Homo sapiens: one gene and its partners. The protein of the gene in region 3 purifies or fractionates together with the protein of the main gene of each other region. This does not show direct contact. Each region holds a gene or a part of one and is shown on either strand. Other genes may lie near its edges. The genes, in order: GCN1, ATP2A2 and TPTE.

What was found.
Region 1: the proteins of TPTE (region 3) and GCN1 purify together in Homo sapiens (affinity purification with mass spectrometry; 3 studies listed by BioGRID and IntAct, with this or other methods). This does not show direct contact.
Region 2: the proteins of TPTE (region 3) and ATP2A2 purify together in Homo sapiens (affinity purification with mass spectrometry; 2 studies listed by BioGRID and IntAct, with this or other methods). This does not show direct contact.

The regions. Positions count from the first base shown.
Region 1 is NC_000012.12:120,139,090-120,142,840, reverse strand, and holds part of GCN1 (stalled ribosome sensor GCN1), read left to right. Parts: coding exon 1-17; intron 18-118; coding exon 119-334; intron 335-1,817; coding exon 1,818-1,982; intron 1,983-3,751. UniProt on the Homo sapiens protein: Ribosome collision sensor that plays a key role in the RNF14-RNF25 translation quality control pathway, a pathway that takes place when a ribosome has stalled during translation, and which promotes ubiquitination and degradation of translation factors on stalled ribosomes.
Region 2 is NC_000012.12:110,326,205-110,329,955, forward strand, and holds part of ATP2A2 (sarcoplasmic/endoplasmic reticulum calcium ATPase 2), read left to right. Parts: intron 1-185; coding exon 186-271; intron 272-1,348; coding exon 1,349-1,813; intron 1,814-3,751.
Region 3 is NC_000021.9:10,601,484-10,605,234, forward strand, and holds part of TPTE (putative tyrosine-protein phosphatase TPTE), read left to right. Parts: intron 1-574; coding exon 575-667; intron 668-2,078; coding exon 2,079-2,149; intron 2,150-3,751.

The DNA of each region.
Region 1 (3,751 bases), on a different chromosome or scaffold from region 3:
CTGCCCAGTCCAACAAGGTGCCTGCAGTGGCTTTCCTGCCCCTGCTGATGGTAGGGTGTGCCCTGATGCCCATGCCATAGAGGCTTCACTACTCTCTGTCCCCTTCTACTGGCTGCAGGCGATCATCACTGCCCTGGGGGTAGAGCGGCGGAACCGGGTGTTGGCAGGGCTGTACATGGGCCGCTCAGACACCCAGCTGGTGGTGCGGCAGGCGTCCCTGCATGTCTGGAAGATTGTTGTCTCCAATACCCCCCGCACCTTGCGTGAGATCCTACCCACTCTCTTTGGGCTCCTGCTGGGTTTCCTGGCCAGCACGTGTGCAGATAAGAGAACGGTGAGTTTCCTGGGCCTTGTTTTGGACCAGCAGCCCCAGTGCCTCCTTTCAGAGCCTAGAAGGCTGGGTCTGCAGAGCCTGGGAAAGTACCCATCCACCCTGCCTAACAGAGGGACATTGTGTTCTTTACTTAGTCATTCTGCAAATATTTTTTGATTAATTTTATTTTATTTATTTTTTTGAGGTGGAGTCTTGCTCTGTCGCCCAGGCTGAAGTGCAGTGGCGTGATCTCAGCTCACTGCAAGCTCCGCCTCCTAGGTTCATGCCATTCTCCTGCCTCAGCCTCCCGAGTAGCTGGGACTACAGGCATCCACCACCACACCTGGCCATTTTTTTATATTTTTAGTAGAGACGGGGTTTCAGCACGTTAGCCAGGACGGTCTCGATCTCCTGACCTCGTGATGCGCCCGTCTCGGCCTCCCAAAGTGCTGGGATTACAGGCTTGAGCCACCACGCCTGGCCTCTGCAAATATTTATTAGCATCTCCTGTGCACTAAGCAGGGGCCTAGCACCTGGGGACACAATGGAGAAGAAAGGCAGCTTCATTCCTTATCCTCATGAGAGGTAGTCTAGTCGAGGAGATGGATATTAATCAAATAACCACACAAAGAGATGTAAAATGCGACTGTGGCCAGTGCTGCATGGCACTGCAAATGCTTATAATAGCTGCATTTGACCTGCTGGGGAGGGATGGGCCTGTGTTAGTGAACACTTCTCAGAAGAAATGATGCTGGAAGATGAAAGATAAGTAAGCACTAACCAGGTGAGGAGGTGGCGAAAGACCATTCCAGACAGAGGGAATAAATAATGTTTCAGATACAAAGACAGGATATGCAGAGGTCCCGTGGTGGGCAGGAACATAGCACCAGTAGGGGCTGAGCAAGGCCAGTGTGGCTGGAGTGAGGAGGCAGGGAGGAGCAGTGCGGCATGAGATCAGGCTGGCGCGCTGGCAGGGGCAGACAGATCAGTGGGCCTGGAGGAGGTGCCCAGATGGGCTGGTGATCATTTCTGCCCATCTCCTTTGGTCTACTTCCAACCCCCCATCCTTGGCAAGCAAATTGTGTATTTGGCTCTAAAGAAGGGTTTGCATGAGGTCTCAGAAAGTAGATGTTTTTTTTTCCTTAAAGCTTTGTTCCAGATTCGGCTCCTGCTCAGCCATAGCACAGTGTTAAGGCTTCAGTCATCCAGGGAAATTGGCCCTTGACTGTGCAGCAGATGATGAATTTTTTGTACATGTGTAAGGTGCTGCTGGCTCTTAATGTTAGGTTGTGTAGGTGTGTGTGAAACAGATAATTTTTTGGTAGTGTTTTGCAAGCACTACAGAGAGTATTTGGGGGCTCTTTAGGGGTAAGAGCATTTGGGGAAGTTAAGTCAGTGATTCAGATAAAGCCTGGGAGGTTTCAGGGCCCTCATTCTGGAGTCCTCCTCTGGGTGCCCTGGGCTTTGCAGGGACTTTACTTCCTGGATTGGTCTCTGTTGACAGATTGCAGCGAGAACATTGGGAGATCTTGTGCGGAAGTTAGGGGAGAAAATCCTCCCCGAGATCATCCCCATCCTTGAGGAAGGCCTGAGGTCTCAGAAGAGCGATGAGAGGCAGGGTGTGTGCATTGGCCTAAGTGAGATCATGAAGTCCACCAGCCGGGATGCCGTGAGTATCTTCCAAGGATCCCGCCAGCTGTGCACTGCAGACGACCTGACTCAGAGGGCGGGGGAGGGCTACTGAAGGAGGTTCACCTCTAGGGGGTTTGTGCTGCCCTCAGGGATGAGCCAGTCTCACTCTGGGGAGGTGCTGGCTGGGCCACATGGACTTGAGGCTCCGTCTTCTCAGCTTTCCTGTCAGTTTTGCAGGCTAAGAGCTAAGTGATTTGGATGCCTCCTTGAGTGGCCTTTGGAAACTGGAGATGATCGCTCTCTTACAACTGTGGAGGTTGCTCAGGATCAGTCTCTTTTGTGATGCTATATAAGTCCAGTTAAAATGTGTGCACCTCCTTCTGGGAAAGGGGATGGACAGCTGTGTGAGTGGGTAGGGCAGGAGGGTGCGGGAGGGGGTGTGCACTCACCCTTAGCAGGAGGGGAGCAGGTAAGAGTTGTGGTGCCAGGTGGGAGGAAGCATATTGCGTCTGGCAACAATACTGTTTCCATAGCAGCAACGTTCAAGGGGTGTGAAGTCCATTACTCTTACTTGGTTCCTGAGTTAAATGATCCTGGAGACCACCCTGGGGAGTAGGTTAGGAGTGCTTTTAGGCACTGCCTTCGTGTTTGGATGAAAACGCCAAAGCAATTAAGTGGATGGCCCGCTAGAAATGTAAGCAAGTGGCCAGTTGCTTGGCTTGGGCATCCTTGTCTGAATTCCTAGGATACCAGATCCCTCTTCTCCTATATTGATGTTTGTCTTACGTTTGGTTTTTAAAATTTACATTTGGCAAGGAATCAAAAGAAATTCTGTCATCAGAAAGAGTTGTGATTCATTGGAGAGGTAGAGTTCCACAGAGGCTGAGTTCTTGTCTGCAAAGTCCCCACAGTCCAATGGCAAGGCCCACATGCCAACCAGTCATTAGAATGCAGAGTGGGCTTTGCTGTGCTGGGATCGTTACTGAGGGAGCAGAGCCATTATTGGCTCCATTGTAGACCCAAAGACTTCATAGAGCACAAAGTCTGGATTGAGACTTGAAGAAGGACTTGGAGTTTTCCAAGAGAATAAGCAAAAGAAAGAGTCCAGGGAGAGAGGGGGCCAGATGCCATGGGAAGGAGTTTGCAGTTCTTAGAGAAGATGGGAGGTATATTGAGAATTCACCTAAAAGATTCAAGCTGTTGATTATTAAGTCTCAGTGAAGGATACATGGGGGTGCATCACATCCTCTCTGCTTTTTTTTTTTATTGAGACGGGGTCTTACTCTGTCACCCAGGCTGGAGTGCAGTGGTGCGATCATAGCTCATTGTAACCTTGACCTTCTGGGCTCAAGTGATCCTCTCGCTATGGCCTCCTGAGTAGCTGGGGACTATAGGTGTGCACCACCACACGTAGCTAATTTTTGCATTTTTAGTAGAGGTGAGGTCTCACTATGTTGCCCAGGCTGGTCTCAAACTCCTGGCCTCAAGTGATTCTCTTGCCTCCACCTCCCAAAGTGTTGGGATTACAGGCGTGAGCCACTGTGCGCGGCCCCTCTCTACTTTTTAATTTTTTTAAAATTTTTAGTTTAAGACAATCTCACTCTGCTGCCCAGGCAGGAGTACAGGGGCACCATCTCTTTTGGCTACAGCCTCTGCTTCCTGGGTTCAAGCGATTCTTGTGCCTCAGCCTCCTGTGTAGCTGGGATTACAGGTGTGCACCACCACACCCAGCTAATTTTTGTATTTTTAGTAGAGATAGGGTTTTGCCATGTTGACCAGGCTGGTCTCGAACTCCTGGCCTCAAGT
Region 2 (3,751 bases), on a different chromosome or scaffold from region 3:
TCTGGTATTAATTTCCATTACTAAGTTTTCCCAGCTTACCTCCTTTGAATGAATTGGGCCTTTTGCCAACCTTTTCTCACACTAACAGTATCCCAAGAGTGGTAATGGGTGGGCATGAATGAGAGGTTCTAGGTTCTTGGTGTGGGTCGCAGAGATCTGTTTTTTCTGTCTCACAACCCGCTTAGGTGAATCTGTCTCTGTCATCAAGCACACTGATCCCGTCCCTGACCCACGAGCTGTCAACCAAGATAAAAAGAACATGCTGTTTTCTGTAAGTACTTTATGAAATGTGTTTTTATTTACAGACATTTCCAAAGCCTAATCAAATGTTATGTTTTTCACTGCCAACCATCACTGGCTATCATTCTAAAGGATAATCACACTTTTCATGGTCAGTCTTAGGTGTCAGAATATGGCAGTAACATAACGTGTGACTTAGATGTCTTTTAATTGGCAAGTTTTGGGGGACCAAAAAATAATGACTAGCTTATACATCTTCAAACTCTTACCTGCAAACATAGTTGAAAAGTAGATTTGTTTGGAAAAGCCTTAGCCAATAAAGGGTATTTTCAAAATGATGTAGATGACAGCTGCTATTTGTATGTGGTTCACAATAAAAAGGTGCGTGTTTAGAGAGAGAGAGAAAGCAAACATGGCAAACCATTAATAATGGTGAGTCTAGGTGCAAAGTATATGAATGTTCATTTTACTATTTCACTTTTTCTATTGATGTGAAAAATTCTTTGAATAGTGAGGAAATGATTTTAAGTTGGGGACATTTGTGGGTTTGTATGAGAACCTGACTACTACCCATAGTAAGTAAATAGAGGTACCCTGAAAATAGTGAAGCCATGTCCTTCTCTTATAACACTAGGAATTAAAGTGGCATGGGAGAGACTGCTCACATTTGATTTCTTTGGTTTTTGGACCCTGTCACATGAGTAGGGGTTGTCAAGATAGCCCATGGGGCTAGTTGCCGTTTCTATTACAGTGAGAAAAGTAGGGGCCTTGAGTTGTTGGAGCCAGAAGTGGAGAATGCTTAGAGTTGAACTATATGAGTTTGAAAAATTGGGAACACAGAGGGGTTAAGAGCACTGCTTGAAGATGGTCTGCAAGCCGGGCTCAAATAGAAATCTAGGTGGGTCAGTACAGAGCTGCCTGACATAAGTAAGTAGCACATGGAGCATTGCTTGTTGTCACAGTTGTATGGCTGGTTGCTTGAACAGTAGCCAGTGGAAGACCTAGTAGAATGTGTAGAGAATCTGGGTGCCCTAGTCAAAAACCAGCGTCGGTATTTAAGTTGGGATGTGGTATTCATCTTGTGACCAGTTCTCTACTTCTGTCCTAGGGTACAAACATTGCTGCTGGGAAAGCTATGGGAGTGGTGGTAGCAACTGGAGTTAACACCGAAATTGGCAAGATCCGGGATGAAATGGTGGCAACAGAACAGGAGAGAACACCCCTTCAGCAAAAACTAGATGAATTTGGGGAACAGCTTTCCAAAGTCATCTCCCTTATTTGCATTGCAGTCTGGATCATAAATATTGGGCACTTCAATGACCCGGTTCATGGAGGGTCCTGGATCAGAGGTGCTATTTACTACTTTAAAATTGCAGTGGCCCTGGCTGTAGCAGCCATTCCTGAAGGTCTGCCTGCAGTCATCACCACCTGCCTGGCTCTTGGAACTCGCAGAATGGCAAAGAAAAATGCCATTGTTCGAAGCCTCCCGTCTGTGGAAACCCTTGGTTGTACTTCTGTTATCTGCTCAGACAAGACTGGTACACTTACAACAAACCAGATGTCAGTCTGCAGGGTAAGAGGAGTAATTTAGAATATTCCGTGTCGTGGTTCTTTGTTCATCCTACCAATATGCCTTCATGCCATCAAAACTTTTGATTTGTAATTTCATACATTTCTGTGGGCTGTATGTATAGCCTGAGCTTAATTTCTAATATTTGAGAGGATCTAATCATTTAATTCCTAAAACTTTCACAAAATACAGGATATCTGTATGGCTGATATACTTGTATTAGATGTAAGAGAATTAGAGAAATTATATTTTCCTTTAATTAAAAAAAAAAAAAGCCTGGGCGCAGTGGCTCACGCCTGTAATCCCAGCACTTTGAGAGGCCGAGGCGGGTGGATCACCTGAGGTCCGAAGTTTGAGACCAACCTGACCAAAATGGTGAAACCCTGTCTCTACCGAAAAGACAAAAATTAGCTGAGTGGTGGCGTGCACCTGTAGTCCCAGCTACTCGAGAGGCTGAGACAGGAGAATTGCTTGAACCTGGGCAGCGGAGGTTGCAGTGAGCCAAGATCACACCACTGCTCTCAATTCTGGGCGACAAGCAAGACTCCATCTCAAAGAAAAGAAAAGAAAAAAGACAAGGTCTCATTCTGTTGCCCAGGCTAGTGTGCAGTGACACAGCTGTGGCTCACTTACAGCCTCAACCTCCCAGGCTCAAGTCCTCCCACCCCAGCCTCACAAGTAGCTGCAACCACAAGTGCATGCCACCATGCCCCACTAGTTTTTTTATTTTTTTTTGTAGAGGCAGGTTCTCACTATGTCACCAGGCTGGTCTTGAATTCCTGGGCTCAAGTGATCCTCCTGCCTTGGCCTCCCAAAGAGCTGGGATTATAAGCATGAACCACCACACTCAGCCTCCTTTCTAATTTTCCTGATCCTCTGTCTCTAGGTGTATGTTAATAGACAAGTTCTAGAGAAAGCTGCTAGTTAACCTCCCTACCTGAAGTCCTAATTGGTTTTTCTATCACATGTTGAATGAAGCGTGCTTTTTCTCAAAAAGTAGATAGTCATCTCTCTGTATTCATTAGAGATTGGTTCCAGGACCTCCCTCAGATACCAAACTCTGCAGATGCTCAAGTCTCTGAAATGAAATGGTTCAGTACTTGCATATAACCTTGTTCATCCTCCAGTATACTTGAAAACATCTCCAGATTACTTACAGTACCTAACGTAATATTATAAATGATATGTAAATAGTTAAACTGTGTTGTTTAGGGATAGTTAACCTGTGTTGTTTAGGGAATAATGACAAGAAAAAAATGTACATGTTCAGTACAGATGCAGTTATTTTTTCCATCTGCTGTTTAGTTGACCGTGGATGTGGAACCCACAGGTACAGAGGGCTGACTAAAATTGCTTTTAACTTGCTTTATTCTGTGTATTCATCATATATATTTTTGTTTGTTTGTTTGTTCTTGTTTTGAGATGGAGTTTCACTCTTGTTGCCCAGGCTGTAGTGCAATGGCCCGATCTCAGCTCACTACAACCTCCGCCTTCTGGGTTCAAGCAATTCTCCTGCTTCAGCCTCCCAAGTAGCTGGGATTACAGGCATGCGCCCCCACGCCCGGCTAATTTTTTGTATTTTTAGTAGAGATAGGGTTTCTCCATGTTGGTCAGGCTGGTCTCGAACTCGCGACCTCAAGTGATCCACCCGCTTTTGAAAGCCTCCCAAAGTGCTGGGATTATAGGCGTGAGCCCCCGCGCCCGGCCATCCTATATTTTTTGACCATCATTTGATAAAATAAATAATTTAAACCTGCTGTTAGAAAAGTAACAACTGAATAAATAATGCAATAATTATACAGCTGGATTATTTTGTATAATTCACTTTCCTTAGGTTTTGCTTAAACAACTTGGTACAAGTCTATTCCAAAAGGTACACATGACTCATACAGAGTAGACATTTGTCACATATTTTATTCGGCTCATTAATTAGCAAGGGAA
Region 3 (3,751 bases):
GAGACTCTGTCTCAAACAAAAAAAAAAGAAAAGAAAAGTGGTTCATGATAACCCTCAAATATGTTGGCCTTTAAAAGACATAAACAACAGGCCAGGTGCAGTGGCTCATGCCTGTAATCCAGTACTTTGGGAGACCCAGGTGGGCAGATCACTTGAAGCAGGAGTTTGAGACCAGCCTGCCTAATATAGTGAAACCCCATCGCTACTAAAAATTCAAAAATTAGCTGGGTATGATGGCATGTGCCTATAGTCCCAGCTACTTGGGAGGCTGAGGCACAAGAATCACTTGAACCTGGGAGGCAGAGGTTGCAGTGAGCCGAGATCATGCCACTGCACTTCAGCCTGGGTGACAGTGAGACTCTGTCTCAGAAAACAAAAAGCAAATGTAAACACACACGCATAAACAACAGTATTGCAACTAGAAGAGATTATTAATAATTATTTATGTATGTAGTGATTGGGCTGTGAGACCAAAAGTACTTGATAAATACAGGAAGTCATGATAAGTGAAAAGGAACTTCATTGTTATCATTATCTAGGTTTATAGTTCTCAATTCCATGTGTTCATTCATAGGTACTTGATAACATTACAACAGACAAAATATTAATTGATGTATTCGACGGTCTACCTCTGTATGATGATGTGAAAGTGCAGTTTTTCTATTCGGTGAGTAATCACAAAGTAGCCTCTGCCATTGTTCTTGTCTGGTCTAATGATTTCATGTAAGATTTGCTTTACTACAATTCCCAACAAGGGAGGGGTAGGGGGAAGAAAACAATAAATCAGATCTATAACAAATTTTTTTAAAAGAGCGTATGTAATTTAAATAATTTTTGTTCATTTGTTTTTTTCTAAATTGTAAATTTTCTAAATTTTTCTAAATTTACATGTATTCTCAAATACAAAAAATACAAAATAAACACACACACAAAGTCAAGATGCTAAAAAAAAAAAACCCCAAAGGTATGTTTTACTGCATAGCATTGATTACATTTTGTTTTGCATCTTTTTTAAAAAATTAAGAAATTGAGACAGGGTCTCACTGTGTCACCCAGGCTGGAGTGCAGTGACGTGATCATAGCTAACTGTAGCTTCAACCTCCTGGGCTCAAGCAATCCTCCCACCTCAGCCTCCCGAGTAGCTGGGAGCACTGACTGGAAAGAGAGTTAGGTTTGGGTGACTCAGTTGGGTGAAACAGAGAAGGCAGCACAATACAACACATGAAATAACCGAAGCAGTTTTTTATTAATTCCAGAGAGAGGAGGGCAGCACACTTCGCAGGGCCAACTAGAAGGGGGAGCCATCCAGGAGACCTGTGCTCGACTGATGGGTGGGAGCAATAGCGAGAGAGAGGGAGGGACCTGAGAGTGGAAGCCTTTATTGGGATGTAAGGTGCTACCTGAGCAGGTTTCCTGCGGGGAGGTCTAATTTGGTTTAATGCAAGCAGCTATGAGTCTCTGCTGTGACTGAGAGGTGGTCACTGATATATCCACATGGTCCCTGCAGAGTATGGGGGTCTGTGGGGTGAGTCAAGTAGGTTATATTTAGCTGTCCCATAGTGAAGTGGTCATCATGAGAAGGTTGTGTAAGGCAGATATCAGGATCAGTCACATGGAGAAACTGGGAGGAGGTGAACGGGAAACTGCTGCGGGTGACTGAACCCCGCTTCTGATATCAGAAAATCCAATTTATAATTAAAAGGGATGCTGAGGCAACAAAAAAATTACAAGAATTCACTACAATGTAGTTGGGTATATATAGACATAGGTCCTTAGTAGAGTCTGTTTGGCACTATCTAAACCAGATTCAAATAGCAGCATTTAAATTAAATACCTATCATGGGAAAAATACTATTCCTTGAAAATTTTGATAGAAACAGCAAGAGAATGCAGTAGCATTTTCTTAAAGCCTCCTCCTTTGTGTCTTGAGTGTATTGTTATAGATTGCAGAGTGCCACATATTTAATGGTTATAATTGTTTGATAAATATAAAAAAGAATAAAGAAAGGAACTTCAATTTCTTTGGAATGATTAGTTCTTGGTATCAGTTTTACTTTGAAATTTTTTTTTCTTTTTAGAATCTTCCTACATACTATGACAATTGCTCATTTTACTTCTGGTTGCACACATCTTTTATTGAAAATAACAGGTATGAATATAATAGAAACCCATAGAAACAGCCTAATCTTCAATGTCTATGTATAAGGTGTAATGGCAAGTCTTTTGCTGGTTGTCATAAACTTAATTTATAGAAAGCAAAAAATCCTTGAACCACCATTGTTCCTTGCCTTACTCTTCTTACTTTGGTTATTTTAAAAATCCATTTGTTCTTGAGACCCACTGTTGCAGTATCCTCAGGGTCCATGCCATAGGACTGTGTTACGAGTTCAAAAGTATTATCATCAGATCTTAAGTGTGGTAGTAAATTCCTCCCAGAGAAGTTCAATATGAGGCTGCTCAGCACCTTCAATATGTCAGGTCCCTGTCAGTAGGTGTTGATTTACCAATGATGAACCACCATCAACTTTTGTGCTAAAGGAAGGCAGGACCTAGGGAGGCTTCAGCTAGCTGAAAAGCTGACTGACACACTTATATCTAGGAGAAGTCACAAGACACAGTATTAAGGAATACAGCTAAGAAATATCATTAAGTAATAGTCTATTTAAATAGCCATTCAAATATGGCTTTCTAATAACTGAATTGGGAAACCTTTCTGAAAAATTATTAATTGGATTTGGAGATTATTGTTCCAAAAAAACCTTCTGCCATATTTGGAAACTCATTTCTCAGTCTAGAAGTTCTCCACTGTAAGTAGCATTTGTTTTGTGATGGTGAAAAATTGAGACTTTTTTTGTGTCAACCATACTCTTCAATACAAAAGGACAAAATATTTTTTAAATGATTTAGGTCAGAGTTGAAGAAGTGGCTATGATTATATGTGGCATGAATTGATAGTTATTGTTACATCCAGTCCTAATCTTTTCTTCAAATGTGAACTGGATCGAATGATTCCTTAAGTCCAGCAAGGCAACAGGAAATTAAACCTCTGGTCTGCACACTTGCAATGCAAAACATTTAATGGATTTTGATAGAGTCAACTTTGTATTTGATGGAAATTTTTTACAAGTTTTTTTTTTTGGATGCATACAAACAATAAGCTTTTTATTCTAACATGAGCAAAGACCCTCAAAAAGTGAGACCTGGGTGGAGCTTCATTTGATGCTGCTCCTCAAAAGTGGTTCTTGCTAAAGGATACCATTTTTTTTTTCCTTTAAAACACTATGTTCATTTTGGAGAAGTGATAAGCTAGGTCACTTTTATTCTTATTTTATATAAATTTCTAAAGATTTCTGTAACATTTAAATTTACATCCTACTTGGTAAAGCTGTTTTTGTTATGAGATTGTTGTTTAGCTAAAAATGCTAACTTCTATCATTGAGAACACGAGGCATAAATGGGTTAACCAATTTATGCCTAGTGTTCCATTATTGGAACACTCAGCATGTGGGAGTTATATCCTACTGCTCAAGGTCATTTCCAAGGTCTGATTGTAAAAATTCAAAAAATTGCAACCTCACACATAAATTAAAAGAGATATAGTATTTTATTACTGGGCTTTCATTCATGTCTATCCTGACTGATTTCTGTCACAGAGAGAAATTTAGATATTTTATTAAACTTGGATGTCATTAATTCCATATAAAGCAATGCTAAGAGAGTCAGCATGTGTTACTGATGTGTTGCTGAAGAT